4 linked regions of the Homo sapiens genome follow. The protein of the gene in region 3 purifies or fractionates together with the protein of the main gene of each other region. This does not show direct contact. Each region holds a gene or a part of one and is shown on either strand. Other genes may lie near its edges.

Region 1 (3,500 bases), on a different chromosome or scaffold from region 3:
TTGGTAGTCTCCATAGCAACAGGGATTGAGGTGGGGGAAGACTCGGTAGAAGCTCTGGTGGCAAAAGAAAAGAGAGAGGGGATGGCTCTGTCACCTGCAGCTCAAATGACCTCCTCCCTTCAGATCCCAGGTAAAATCTTAGCATCATGGCTGATATGGTTTGGCTGTGTCCCCACCCAAATCTCATCTGGAATCATAGCTCCCATAATCCCCATGTGTCATGGGAGGGACCCAGTAGGAGGTAACTGAATCATGGGGGTGGGTTTTTCCCATGCTGTTCTCATGATAGTGAATAAGTCTCACGAGATCTGATGGTTTAGAAAGGGCAGTTCCCCTGCACCTGCTCTCTTGCCTGCCACTGTTTAAGATGTGCCTTTGCTCCTCCTTTGCCTTCTGCCGTGATTGTGAGGCCTACCCAGCCGTGTGGAACTGTGAGTCCATTAAACTTCTTTTTCTTTATAAACTACCCAGGCTCAGGTATTTCTTCATGGCAGTATGAAAATGGACTAATACAATAGCTTATTCTAGCTGCTTGATTACATGTTTGTCTTCTCCATTAGACCATACACTAAACAATAAGGGCAGGGCCTATATTTGTTTTACTCACTGCTATATGCAATCACTTATGACAGCATTCAATAAGTAAGTACTCAATAAATAATTGTACAACAAAGCCTTCCCTGACCATCAGAACCCATATTAATCTCTCCTTTCTTTGGTTTCTATAAATCACTGAACTTTAGATTAGAAGGAACTTAAGGATTATTTAATATAACTCTTGCCATTTTATACACAGGGAAACTGAGGCCTTGAGAGAATAAGTGGCTTGTCCATGATCACAGAATATTGGAAGTAGAGCCAAGACAGAAAGCCCTGCTCTTTGTGGCTAGCTTAGAGCTGCTTCCACTTCCATGCTAGCTCTCAGCAGGACTGTGCAGCACCATTAGAAGACATTCATCACAACTCTCCTTGAGCACAGTTCTCTTTAGACTGCACAGACAGGTTGGGCACAGTGGCTCACGCCTGTAATCCCAGCACTTTGGGAGGCTGAGGCGGGTGGGATCACTTGAGATCAGGAGTTGGAGACCAGCCTGGCAAATGTGGTGAAACCCGTCTCTACTAAAAATACAAAAATTAGCTGGGCGTGGTGGTGAGCGCTTGGTAATCCCAGCTACTTGGGAGGCTGAGGCAGGAGAATCACTTGGACTCAGAAGGTGGAGGTTGCAGTGAGCCAAGATAGAGCCACTGCACTCCAGCCTGGGCCACAGAGCGTGACTTTGTCTCAAAAGAAAAAAAAAAAAAGACTCCACGGACACCTTTTGGAAGACACCTGGGGATGGTTTAAATTTCATCCTGCCTGGAGGCCAGAAGCTGGATCATTTGCCCTCTCAAGCATCCTGTGTCCCAAAGACTAGATATTCCTAGCTATTTGTAGAAATTCTGTTGGAAAGAGGTGGTCAGGGAAACGGGAACAGGTTGGTAACCACTGCAGGCACTGGAGAAGAGAACAGCAGCTTGGGCCTGAGGGCGGGAGAGTGAAAGGAGTTCTCAGTCTGGCTTGGGGTTTACCTGCCCACAAAAAGAAGACACAAGCACGCCAACTATCTTGTCTCCTGAAATAAAGTCATTATGTACCTGGCATATAGTAAGTGATTATAAATGTTCCTTTCCCTTCTTCTCAGAGATCCTTAGTCTATAATATAGAAAACATTTTTTTTTTTTTTTTTTTTGAGACGGAGTCTCACTCTGTCGCCCAGGCTGCAGTGCAGTGGCGCAATCTCGGCTCACTGCAAGTTCCGCCTCCTGGGTTCACGCCATTCTCCTGCCTCAGCCTCCCCAGTAGCTGGGACTACAGGCGCCCGCCATCACGCCAGGCTAATTTTTTTGTATTTTTAGTAGAGACAGGGTTTCACCATGTTAGCCAGGATGGTCTCGATCTCCTGACTTTGTGATTCGCCCACCTCGGCCTCCCAAAGTGCTGGGATTACAGGCGCCCAGCCAGAAAGAACATCTTAAAACAGACTTGCATCCTTGTCTCTGAAAAACCATATGTAATTCCCTATAAACAAGGCCCCACACTCACTTCCTTTAGGAAGCCTCCATTCAGTGCTCCCCACCTCTCAGCCACACTACACTGCCTTTATCATCACAGCCTTCCCTTCCCCCCAGCACTTACATATAAGGCAATATGTGGCTGTCCTCTTGTTTTTGATAAGGATATCATCAGACCACATGCGTCTGGTCAGCAGGGCTATGTCTCTTACCCCAGTCTGGAGGACTACCCTGAGACTGGGTGTTCTCCTTTCCCAGGGCACTACCTTGAGACTGGCTGGGTATTCCCTTTTTCTAGATTGGCTGGGTGCTCTCCTTCTCTCAATAGTTTCTAGTAGAGATGTTCACTTTAAGGAATTCTCTATGGGCCAAGCATTCAGTCCTCCATCATATGGGTAGAACTGTTAACAAACTAATATGTGACTATTAACCATAAGATCTCTTCCCTGGAAAAGATGATCATTCTGACTATGAAAAATATTCATCAATGGCTCTATGAACACAATCAGCCAGGACTGGGCAGCATTTCATGCAAGGCCTTTGGGGCCTTCTGACATCTAGTACTTGTGCTGCCTTGTCTGGATGGAGGAGGGGAAAAGAACAAGAGCTCACTGAGTTAAGATCCAGGAGATACACGTTCTCATCTACTACCCCATGTGTCAGGCAAGAACTCTGTGGCTGCTGCTTCCCTCGTGTGGGCCAATAGCAAGTAGGAGCAGCATGATGAAATAAATAACTCAAAAAATAATCTAGATAGTTATCACCAATATGGGCCACACCCTGTGATGGGAGTTCGGGGTGGCTCAGATCCAGTGCCTTCGCCCAGGGGCTCTGATACAATGCAGGGGACAAGCAAAGAGCTACTAAGGCTGAAAGGAATAAGTGATGGATACTGATCAGGGCTCAGAGAGTGTCCACAGTGATGGAGGCATTTGAGTTGGACCTTGAAGGGTTTTTAAGAGGCAGAAAAGATGAAGGAAACATGAGCAAAGGCAGAACAAGAAAGTGTGTAAATGTTTAGAAGAATGGAAAGTAGCATAAAGAGGTTGGAGTGTAAGATGTGTGGAAGAATAGTGTAGGATGTGGGGCAGGAGAGAGAGGATCCAGATCATGGGGGGCCTTGAGTGCCACGCTGTAGAGTTGGAACTTTATTCTGTAGCTAGGGAAAAGCCATGGAATGGTATCTTAAAAGAAGATAAAATGGTCAGATCTGTGCCTGGAAAGGATACTCTGGCTGTCATGTGGACTGGAGGGAGCTGGAATTGAGGCAGTGAGCCCAGCTACCAGAGTCTTGAAATAGTTTAGTGTAAGATGCTGAGTCATGAATTGGGGCAGAGAGGATAACAAAGTAGGGAAGTGGGGGTAGAGACAGTCGTAAGACCTGAGGAGGAAATGGCTAAGTGAGGGTTGAAGGAGGAAGGGGCCTCAGGCAATTTCATAGGTAGACA
Region 2 (3,882 bases), on a different chromosome or scaffold from region 3:
GGGACTATTGAGAAGGGATGATTATATGTTGCAAGGCGAGCTGGACATGAGATTTGAGGGACCAGGGATGGAATGATAAAGCTTGGAGGTTTGTCCCCTCCAAATCCCATGTTGAGATGTAATCCCCAGTGTTGGAGGTGGGGCCTGGTGGGAGGTGTTTGAATCATGGGAGCAGGTTCCTCATAAATAGTTTAGTGCCATCCCCTTGGTGATGAGTGAGTCCTTGCTCTGGTAGTTCACTTGAGATCTGGTCATTTAAAAATGCATGGTGCTCCCTCAACCCCACCACTCTCTCTTGCTCCTGCTCTTACTACATGATGTGTTGGCTCTCACCCCACCTTCAGCCATGACGGAAGCTTCCTGAGGACTCACCAGAAGCCAAGCAGATGCCAGCACCATGCTTCCTGTACAGCCTGCACAACTGTGAGCCAGTTTAACCTGTTTTTAAATAAATTACCCAGCCTCAGGTATTTCTTTACAGAAACACAAAAACAGCCCAATGCACGTAGTAACTTATAGATATATTTGGAAAACTGATTATCTTTTAAAAAATGACTACTAAACAGATTAAAATGCAGAGTTCATTAAAATACAGAGGATGCCTCTGGTTCTCTGGTATTGACTCTTTTTGTCTACTAAGATAAGAAGTCTGGGCTAGGCTGAAAAACTCAGAATCCAGGTCTGGGGTTTCCCAGTACTATGCTCCCATTTCCCAGTACTGTGCTCCCATTTCCCAGTACTATGCTCCCATTTCCGAGTACTGTGAACTCCCCTTTCCCAGTACTGTGGGCTCCCATTTCCCAGTACTGTGCTCCCATTTCCCAGTACTGTGTGCTCCCATTTCTCAGTACTGTATGCCCATTTCCCAGTACTGTGCTCCCATTTCTCAGTAGTGTACTCCCATTTCTCAGTACTGTGCTCCCACTTCTCAGTACTGTGCTCCCACTTCCCAGTACTGTGCTCCCATTTCCCAATACTGTGCTCCCATTTTGCAGTGCTGTGAGCCCCCATTTCCCAGTACTGTGCTCCCATTTCCCAGTACTGTGCTCCCATTTCCTAGTACTGTGCTCCCATTTCCCAGTACTGTGCTCACAGGTGTGAGCCAACATGCCCGGCCCATCAGCTCTTAAGCAGCAAGAGGCCCTGCAGCTGGCTGGCTGGCTGGACAGCACAGTTAAGCAGGTGGCTGCATCCTCTGCAGTTGCTGGCAGCCCATCTTCCTGGAGATGTAAACCCTCCTGCAAGGCTGGCTCTTCTTTGGGTGTGATGAAGATGATGACAGAGATGGATGCTGGGCTCTGAGGGTCCTGGTTCCTTCGAAGGACATCCAGGGGCCTCTGAGATGATGGGCTCTGGTTCCTGGCCTGTAGCATGGGTAGGAGCAGGAGGCTTTGCAAGGTAGACTCTACAGGCAGGACCTTGATGGAGGGTGGGGTTTCAGGGTAGAAGACCTGGATCACAGGGGCACCTGAGCTCCTGCAGGACAAAACAAAGTCACTCTTTGAGCAGCCACCAGGGAGGAAGCTCAGCTCTACTTGTGATGGAAACCCACCGGTGGCTTTTACCCCAACCTGTTGCCTGGAGAGGCAGGGCTGGTTTCTGGGTGGATCATCACCTTGGCTTAGACACAGAGCCCCACTCCCAGCTGGGTCTAGTGAGAGTCCTCCCGAGCCAGGCTCCTGCCCTCCCCATCCTTCCAGAAAGCTTAGAGATGAGTGCATCACCGACAGAGGCCATTTTCTATTGTTCTTCTTCGGAAATACATCCTTTTGAAAGATAACCCATCTTTTATCACTAGATATTTTAAAAAATATTTTCTTTGGCCAGGTGTGGTGGCTCACACCTGTAATCCCAGCACTTTGGGAGTCCGAGGCGGGTGGATCATGAGGTCAGGAGATCGAGACCTTCCTGGCTAATACAGTGAACCCCCGTCTCTACTAAAAATACAAAAAATTAGCTGGGTGTGGTGGTGGGCAACTGTAGGCCCAGCTACTCAGGAAGCTGAGGCAGGAGAATGTTGTGAACCCGGGAGGCGGAGTTTGCAGTGAGCCAAGATTGGGCCACTGCACTCCAGCCTGGGTGACACAGCGAGACTCTGTCTAAATACATATGTGTGTGTGTGTATATATATATATATTCTTTGTTTACGGCATTTATCAATTGAATTATGTTGTGTCTAGAATTTTATTTCCCCTTCTTGGATTCACTGGGCTTTATGAATCTGTGAGTTGGTGTCTTCTAACAATGTTGGCAAATTCTCAGCCAAATCTCCTTAAATATGACATCTTCCCAATTTTCTCTCTTTTCTCTTTCTAGGACTCTAAACATAACATAGCCTTCAAACTGTATTCTCATTCATTTTTTTCACATTTTGCGTTTCTGTCACTTTGTATCTATTTCAGTAATTTCTTCAGCTCTAGATTCTAGTTCCCTAATTCACTTTTCAACTGTCTAATTTGTTGTTAAATCCATCCACTTTAAAAAAAATCAGTGATATTTCTCATAAGTTTTATTTGGTGTTTTTCCATATCTGCTTTGTAATTTAAAAAATAGTTTTCTGTTCTCTTCAGATATTTCTGACTTTGTGTTTTCTTCATGTTTTGGTCTGCCAAATTCAACATCTGAAATATTTATGTGTCTGTTTCTACTACGTTTTCTGCTGCTTCTCACTCAGTGCTTTATTTTCACATGTGGTGGGTTGTTTTTCATTGAGAATTGCTTCTTTGCTTTGTAGTTTTATTTTTGAGAAATCTTTGAGGCTTAGGATGAAGGTTTGTTACTCAGAAGGAATTATGCTTGGCTCCTGGGAATGACCAGTTCAGAATCACTCTCTATTAAATTCTCAGCTTGGGGACTTTTGGTCACCCACCTCACACAAATTTAGGGAGAACCTGTTGCTCCAAATACTCGGCAGTGATTTTTCTCTTTTTCTTTCAGCTCTAGGGCTTGAAATGACTGATCCCCCCTGATTCCTTTGCGGGTAGAGAAGTGAGTTGCCTCTAGTTTGCCACTGCAATGAGGGTACCGCCCTCTGGGGGCCCTTACTTTAAGAGATTACTGATTGGCTTGCCATTTTGGCTGTGCTCTCAGCTTGATCTTCCATTTGTATCTCTTGAAAAGGTGAAAATGAAGTTGACCAGGTTTCACAAATGCCCTCAGGGCAAAGGCCAGCTGCACTCCCCACTAGATTTCTCTTTGGGTTCCTCTGTGCCTTCAACCATGGCCTGAGAATTCCTTATGTCTCCTCAGTTCATTAATGCCTTTAAGAATATTTACACTCGCACTCACATGGACACGGACACGCGCACGCGTGCACACACACACCCTTAACTTGCTCAGTTTCGGAGCATTGTCCGATCCTTGTAAGTGACTTGCCACATGACTAGAACCTCTGGCTTCATTTCACTCCTTCTTTCTTTCCCCTCCCTTTTCCCTTTATGCCATCGGTCTGTATTCCACGATCTTTAAAATCTACCTTAAGTACTTTCTGGGATTATGTAAAAATCAGACAACTCTCCTAGCCACCATCCTTTTCTAGAGATAGGAGTGACTGACTCCTACACCACAGGCACTTTGGAGGGGTAAGGTGTAATACTGAAGAAGTGTTTTGTGTGGTCTACAGTAATTCACAACTCTAAGACGTTATCACAGCGAACATTTGCTGTTTAAAACCTTAGTGGTGAATATTTTTTTTTTTGAATGAGGCTAATTCATTTCGAAAGCACCCTAGGAAGACCAGATGCTTTTGAAATGATTTAGACTCATTCAAAAATAATGCAAATGATAAAGAGCATGCAAATGATAAAGAATGTGACCTGAAATTATCTGCAACTTCAGCAGACAAGCTGTGGTTGGCTGAGTTTGGGCTTCTATAAAACACAC
Region 3 (3,500 bases):
AAGAACAATTTTCTATTATCAGTAATTAAAACAATCTGAGTCTTGGCATATTTGATCATTTTAAAGCTTAGTCATTTGACAAACATTTACTGAATATATGTATTATCCCTACAGTGGGAATACAAAGCTGACGCAGGCAGTCTGTCTTCATAGGGCTTTATGCTAGTAGAAGCCTAGATCACTGAGTTTTAATAAATGAAAATCCCTGTAAAAGGTAAAGGGAGAAATAATACAAGATTTAAAAACTCCTAAGAATACTGTATTTACTGAATATACGTTGAAGCCACTGCGCCCAGCTGGGATCTTTGACTCTTCATTGTGCTCTTTTGTTGCAATGTGGTAAAAAGTTTTCTGGCCATTTACACTTGGCCAAAGATGCAGTGGTCGGGCGCCGTGGCTCACACCTGTAATCCCAGCAGTTTGGGAGGCCAAGGCGGGTGGATCACGAGGTCAGTAGTCTGGGACCAGCCTGGCCAACAGAGTGAAACCCTGTCTCTACTAAAAATACAAAAAATTAGCCAGGCGTGGTGGCGGGCGCCTGTAATCACAGCTACTTGGGAGGCTGAGGCAGGAGAATCGCTTGAACCTGGGAGACGGAGTGCAGTGAGCTGAGATCGCACCAGTGCACTCCAGCCCGGGTGACAGAGCAAGACTCCCGTCTCCAAACAAACAACAAAAAAAAAAAAAAGGAAAAAAAAGAAAAGATGCAGTAATGGTTATTACGATACTGTGCATCTGTGTGCCACCTATTAGCCATCTGTTACGTAAAAAGTTGTTAAATCTATTATTTGTAATTCTCCTGGGACTGAAGGTCATTGTCTCCACAGGGACATCTCTGCCATTAACTTCTGCCAGGTCCCATTTATCCTGCATCAAACTGAAAACTACTCACTCTGAAGGTCACTCTTTAACAGTTAACCATTTCTTACTGAACTGAGAACTCTGAAGTGCTGTTGTCACTTAACTCTACAACAGGACATTAGTCTTGTGTTCCAATCGTATCTCCTGTTAGCCCTTCATACGCATCCTGGGCTCCAGATAAACTGAATCATGTGCTTACTTTTTGAGCAATGCTGGACATTCCTACTTCTATATATTTTCCTAGGTTATTGCTTTAACAACACCTTTTCCCCTATCTATATTCTTCTACTCATACATTTCAAGTGGCACCCCTCCAATTAAAGCCTTTCTGCCTCTCTCCCTCATTAGATTACGTATTTTTGACTTTATACCATTTTGTTTCATAGCTCTTTATAGTATTATACTTTTGTCATCTTATTCCATGCCCCAATTCCTTCCTCCTAACTGTAAACTGCTTGTGATATTATGCCTTATTCATTTTTCTATTTACCTGTATGCTTTGAACATAGCATATAGAATAACTGGAATTTTTGAATTTGTATTTAGAAAAATACAGGTTAAAACACTAAAACTGAGAGCTGCAGCTTACAATATTCCTATAAAACAGATTAATCTGAAAACAGGAGCTGGTAAATAGATGGGCTTTTTCTCATAACTCTAAATATTTAGTTTGTAATGTGTCTGGCCTTCTGAGTCTCGGGTTTTTCACGCTAATTTTATACATCATCAACAATCTTTATCCATTTTCTAAACTAATATAAAACAAAAATACATTGCTAATCATCAAAGAACTTGTTTCAAACACTTGGGCCTGCTTTTATTGAGGCCCAATAGTTCTGTCTTGATACTGACCTTCTTTCAAACATTCTCAGAGAATAAAGCTTACAAGTACATCCCAATGCTATGACGAGTAACAGGCCACAGATGAGGCTCCCTATGACGGCAGCAGTGATGACTCTTGTAGGCACGATTACTGGGCAATTTTCTTCATCGCTGCCATCACCACAGTCATCTTGAGAATCACACACCCAACTTTCAAACACACAACGATTGTTTTTACAATGGAAATTTCCTGGTTGGCAAAAAAAGCAGTTTTTTTCATCTGAGCCATTTGGGCAATGATTCTGGTAGTTGCAGCGATCAGAACGAGGATAACAGACACCATTTCGGGAACATGGAAATTCTTCCTTCTGGCACATGGTACAATTGGTTTCATCCCTTCCATTTGGGCAATGCCAATACCCATCACAACGCTGCTGCTCAGTATAACACCCCCAGTTACCTCCACAGGGTATTTCCCATGGCAAACAGAACCCATCTACTTGGTAAGTAGCATTAAATCCCCTTGCAGCATTCACTTTATCAGCACAAAAATGTACCCTTATCTGTCCAGAAGAAGAAACAACTGTAAGAGGTGCATGAGAATCAAAAGCTGTCAACACACGCAAAAGCTTGTGTGGATTCTCCTCTAATCCATCATATATTTTGACATAATCACCATAACCAGTACCATCAAGTTTAAAGTCAGTGAAGCGTAAAATGACTTTACGGTGATCACCAGTGTCTATTAACCAGGTGCAATTGCTTCCAGGAGGATAAAAGTCTGGATAATTGGGAGAATTAAAAGTACCATAAAAATATTTTAGCCATTGCCCACATGTTGGCACATCACAGTCTATCTCATCTCCTAGGTCAAGGCAGTCAATGTTCCCATCACATTTTAAAGATTCGGGGAGGCAAGTGTAAACTTTGGTAAAACGGGATAAACACTGGAACTGGTTGTAAGCACAGGGTTGAAAAGCAGCAGCAGTTGGAGGATTTGCTTCTTTGGCACAGATCTCTTCATCGGAACTATCTCCACATTCATCCATGTTATTACATTTCCAGGCTTCTGGTATACACTTTCCATTACCACAACGAAACTGATCACAAGCACAATTTGGTTCCTCAGATTTCCCTGTGAAGATGTGAGTAGAAATAGATGGAAAGAGAAGGAGAAAAATTATAATCTTTAAAAGACATAAAACAGCAAGTGATATTTTTATAATAAATGTTCATAAAGCCCAAGTGCTAGAAGTTTTAAAAAACAGGTTGGTTTTTTAATATTTTAATTTTAAGTTCCAGGGTACATGTGCAGGATGTGCAGGTTTGTTACATGAGTAAACATGTGCCATGGTGGTTTGCTGCACCCATCAATCCATCACCTAGGTATTAAGTCCAGTATGCATTAGGTCTTTTCCCTAATGCTCTCCCTCCCACCCCACCCTCCCTAGAAAGGCCACAATAAATCTGGGGCCTGTGTCCATGTGTTCTCATTGTTCAGGTCCCACTTATAAGTGAGAACATGCAGTGTTTGGTTTTCTGTTCCTGTGTTATTTTGCTGAGGATAATGGCTTCCAGCTTCATCCATCCATCCAGCTTCCAGCAAAGGACATGATCTCGCTCCTTTTTATGGCTGCATAGTATTCCATGGTGTATATGTACCAACATTTTCTTTACCCAGTCTATCATTGATGGGCATTTGGTTTGATTCCATCTCTTTGCTATTGAGAATAGTGCTGCAATCAACGTATGTGTGTATGTATCTTTATAAATGGAATGATTTAACAGGTTGGGTTCTAATGACAAATTAGTACTGG
Region 4 (3,500 bases), on a different chromosome or scaffold from region 3:
AAAGGAACGAAGTACTGCTACATAGTACAACATGGACAAACCTCGAAAACATGCTAAGTAAAAGAAGCCAGTCACAAAAGACCACATATTGTATGATTTCATTTACATGAAATACCCAGAAGAGAGAAATCTGTACTAAAAGGAAGTAGATTAGTGGTTGCCTAGGGGTGTGGCTGGGGAAGTTCAGGGGAAAGGGAGAGTGACTGCTAATGGCTACAGGGTTTCTTAGGGTGGAAGGGTAACGAAAATGCTCTAAAATTGATTGTTATAATGATTGTACAACTCTGTGAATATTCTAGACCAGTGAATCATACATTTTAAATAGGGATCAGTTGGGCGCAGTGGCTCACGCCTGTAATCCTCTACTTTGGGAGGCTGAGGTGGGCAGATCATCTGAGGTCAGAAGTTCGAGACCAGCCTGACCAACATGGAGAAACCCCGTCTCTACTAAAAAATACAAAATTAGCTGGGCGTGGTGGCACATGCCTGTAATCCCAGCTACTCAGGAGGCTGAGGCAGGAGAACCCGGGAGGCGGAGGTTGCAGTGAGCTGAGATTGCACCACCGCACTCCAGCCTGGGTGACAGAGCGAGACTCCGTCTCAAAAAAAAAAAAAAAAAAAATTGGGACCTATGGTATGTGAATCATATCTCAATAAAGTTCTTATTAAAAAAAGAAAGCTCAGCTGGGCACGGTGGCTCACGCCTGTAATCCCAACACTTTGGGAGGCTGAGGCGGGAGGATCACGAGGTCAGGAGATGCAGACCATCCTGGCCAGGATGGTGAAACCCTGTCTCTAGTGAAAATACAAAAATTAGCCAGGCATGGTGGCGGGCGCCTGTAATCCCAGCTACTCGGAGGCTGAGGCAGAGAATTGCTTGAACCTGGGAGGTGGAGTTGCAATGAGCCGAGATCACACCACTGCACTCCAGCCTGGGTGACAGAGCAAAACTCCATCTCAAAAAAAAAAGCTCAAGTAATATTTTTTTTTAGGAAAGTACTTTATATACTTTAAAGATATACTTTATATATCTTAAATAGGACAGCTGGGAGAGTTTCCACAACTTTTGCATATTCCAGTTAGGAAGCCCCCTTCTACCACAGTAACCACATCACTAACTCTAATACAATCCCCTGACCTCTGTCTTTGCCCCTATAGCATTTTATGCTTTCCTCATCAAGGCACTTTTCACAATGTTGAGCAATGGCCTGTTTACTTGTTTCTTGCCCCCACTAGACAATGAGCTCCTTGAGAGCAGGGACATCGTTTGCCTCATTCATTGGTATAACCCTGGCAGCTAGTACAGTGGCTGGCACAGAGTCACTCAATATACACCAAAGAAATGACTAAATCTTAATCTACATCAAGGACACAAAGATCTGAAGGCAACATCAGGGCAGGTGTAGAGGCAGGGAAGCTGGGGTGATTAGAATACAATATTGCCTAATTATATTTCCAAGCTGTAAATTAGCCTCCGCCCTCTCTATATCGACCCAGCCTTAAGTCAGGAACACTTACTGGGCTCTGTGGCAAGAGGCTGCTACTGGTCTCTTGAGTACTGGGAGGTCGACTTCCACTTTCCTCCAGTGGCAAAATACCCCTTCGATCCAGCACACTGAAGGAGATAAGAGAGTTAACAAAGAACTGGGCATTCACCCCTCCACCCACCTGGCCTACGGAATTTTGCTGCATAGACTGGAAAATATAAACCTGTCCTTTGGCAATCTAGCCTGAACACAGCACATGCCTCTTATCTCCCATTCACTTTTTCTTCCACAAACCAGGAAATGTCACATTAACCAGGGAACAAACAAATGAAATTAAGAATGAAAGATCATCCCTCCAAAACAACCAGCCCATGGTCTATGGTCCATGTAGACATGGTACCAAGTGGCAAGCCCTGGAAAGACCTATTTGACACCAAGAGGCCACACTCAGAAAAACACATCAGACAAGGTAACAGGATCAGGTTGAGCTGCTCATCCCAACAGTCCCAGGACTTTTGAGTGCCCTGAGCACCTGGGGGGCAAGGGGCCACACAGCACTTCACAGCAGTTCTTCACAATATTGCCATGGCTGTAGGGATTCTGGACGCGATTCTTCCCTGTCCATGATCCTTTGATCTGCAAGATAAAAACCAAGGCTGACATTAAAAATAATGTTAAAATGAACAAATAATAATAATAAAATTAAAAACAGACACAAAAAAGAAAAATAATAATAATAATGTTGAAGAAACACATGCAGCATGGGATAATAAAAAAGTTCTGGAAATGGATGGTGGCAATGGTTGCACAACAATGTGATGCCACTGAACTGTACATTTAGGATATGAGGGCGATCTGGCTGCAACAACTGTCACCCCATTGATCGCCAGGGTTGAAAGACATTTAATATAGCACACTTTATATCATGTATATTTTATCACAACAAAAAAGAAATACATACACAGCCATGAAAAATACTCACAATAGAGTGAAAAAAGCAGATAACTGAATGATATATACTATTTTTATTTAAAAGTACATAATATAAACACATAAATAAACATGGAAAAAAGTCTAGACAAGTCTAGAATATATAAATCATACTACTAACAAAGGTGATGTCTAAGAAGTAAAGTAAGAGGAACTTACTTTTTTCTTTTTGCTCATCTGTATTTTCTGATTTTCTACAGTGAATGTAGATTAATTGCTAACTTTTTTTTTTTTTTTCCAGACAGAGTCTCATTCTGTTGTCCAGGCTGGAGTGCAGTGGCGTGATCTTTGCTCGCTGCAACCTCCACCTCCCGGGTTCAAGTGATTCTCCTGCCTCAGCCTCCCGAGTAGCTGGGACTACAGGTGCACACTAACACATCCGGCTATATTTTTGTATTTTTAGTAGAGACAGGGTTTTGCCATGTTGGCCAGGCTGGTCTTGAACTCTTGACTTCAGGTGATCCGCCCGCCTCAGCCTCCCAAAGTGCTGGGATTACAGGCGTGAGCCACCACACCCAGCCTAATTGGTAACTTTTTATATAGCAAGGATTCATCCAGTGCAACTGTCCCTCTCCATGCCAAACAGAGGCACCAGCTAGCCTTTAAGGACCTGTGAACAGTTAAAGGCTGTATACCCACCCAACTTTTCAACCTCTTCTTCCTAATGCTCCACAAGCATTCAACAAAGCCCTCTCCTTTCTCTTCCACACATCTGACTTAACAACCTCGCATACCACGTTTCTGCCTGCCTCAACCTCCCAGGCCCTGGAGACTCGGTAGTTCTCTAGCAGGTAGCAAGAGGATAGGCTTTGGGAAGAAGAATATGTGGTGAGGAGAAGAGAAAGTTGACTCACGTCTTCATTGGTTGTCTGGTTGAGAGCCACGAGGAAAGTATGAAATCCAGTCAGTCCCACGACGGACCAGAGTGTAAAGAAGCAAATGAGGACTTCTAGAACAGTGAGGTGTGGTTAAGGAGTATTGAAGAACTCAACATCAGGAGACTTGATGCCTCCGCCCATATTC

Evidence for each region. Proteins that work in one complex are often made in the same cells at the same time.
Region 1: the proteins of LRP12 (region 3) and KCNE3 purify together in Homo sapiens (co-immunoprecipitation; one large-scale study listed by IntAct). This does not show direct contact.
Region 2: the proteins of LRP12 (region 3) and ZDHHC11 purify together in Homo sapiens (co-immunoprecipitation; one large-scale study listed by IntAct). This does not show direct contact.
Region 4: the proteins of LRP12 (region 3) and ZDHHC9 purify together in Homo sapiens (co-immunoprecipitation; one large-scale study listed by IntAct). This does not show direct contact.

The regions. Positions count from the first base shown.
Region 1 is NC_000011.10:74,457,550-74,461,049, forward strand, and holds part of KCNE3 (potassium voltage-gated channel subfamily E member 3), read right to left. Parts: intron 55-3,500; coding exon of another isoform or gene 15-54; coding exon 1-14. UniProt on the Homo sapiens protein: Ancillary protein that functions as a regulatory subunit of the voltage-gated potassium (Kv) channel complex composed of pore-forming and potassium-conducting alpha subunits and of regulatory beta subunits.
Region 2 is NC_000005.10:795,105-798,986, forward strand, and holds the end of ZDHHC11 (palmitoyltransferase ZDHHC11), read right to left. Parts: intron 1,477-3,882; 3' UTR 501-1,476; downstream 1-500. UniProt on the Homo sapiens protein: Endoplasmic reticulum-localized palmitoyltransferase that could catalyze the addition of palmitate onto various protein substrates and be involved in a variety of cellular processes.
Region 3 is NC_000008.11:104,495,259-104,498,758, forward strand, and holds part of LRP12 (low-density lipoprotein receptor-related protein 12 isoform a precursor), read right to left. Parts: intron 2,819-3,500; coding exon 1,714-2,818; intron 1-1,713. UniProt on the Homo sapiens protein: Probable receptor, which may be involved in the internalization of lipophilic molecules and/or signal transduction. May act as a tumor suppressor.
Region 4 is NC_000023.11:129,809,387-129,812,886, forward strand, and holds part of ZDHHC9 (palmitoyltransferase ZDHHC9), read right to left. Parts: exon of another isoform or gene 3,435-3,500; coding exon 3,332-3,434; intron 2,124-3,331; coding exon 2,020-2,123; intron 1,616-2,019; coding exon 1,519-1,615; intron 1-1,518. UniProt on the Homo sapiens protein: Palmitoyltransferase that catalyzes the addition of palmitate onto various protein substrates, such as ADRB2, GSDMD, HRAS, NRAS and CGAS. The ZDHHC9-GOLGA7 complex is a palmitoyltransferase specific for HRAS and NRAS.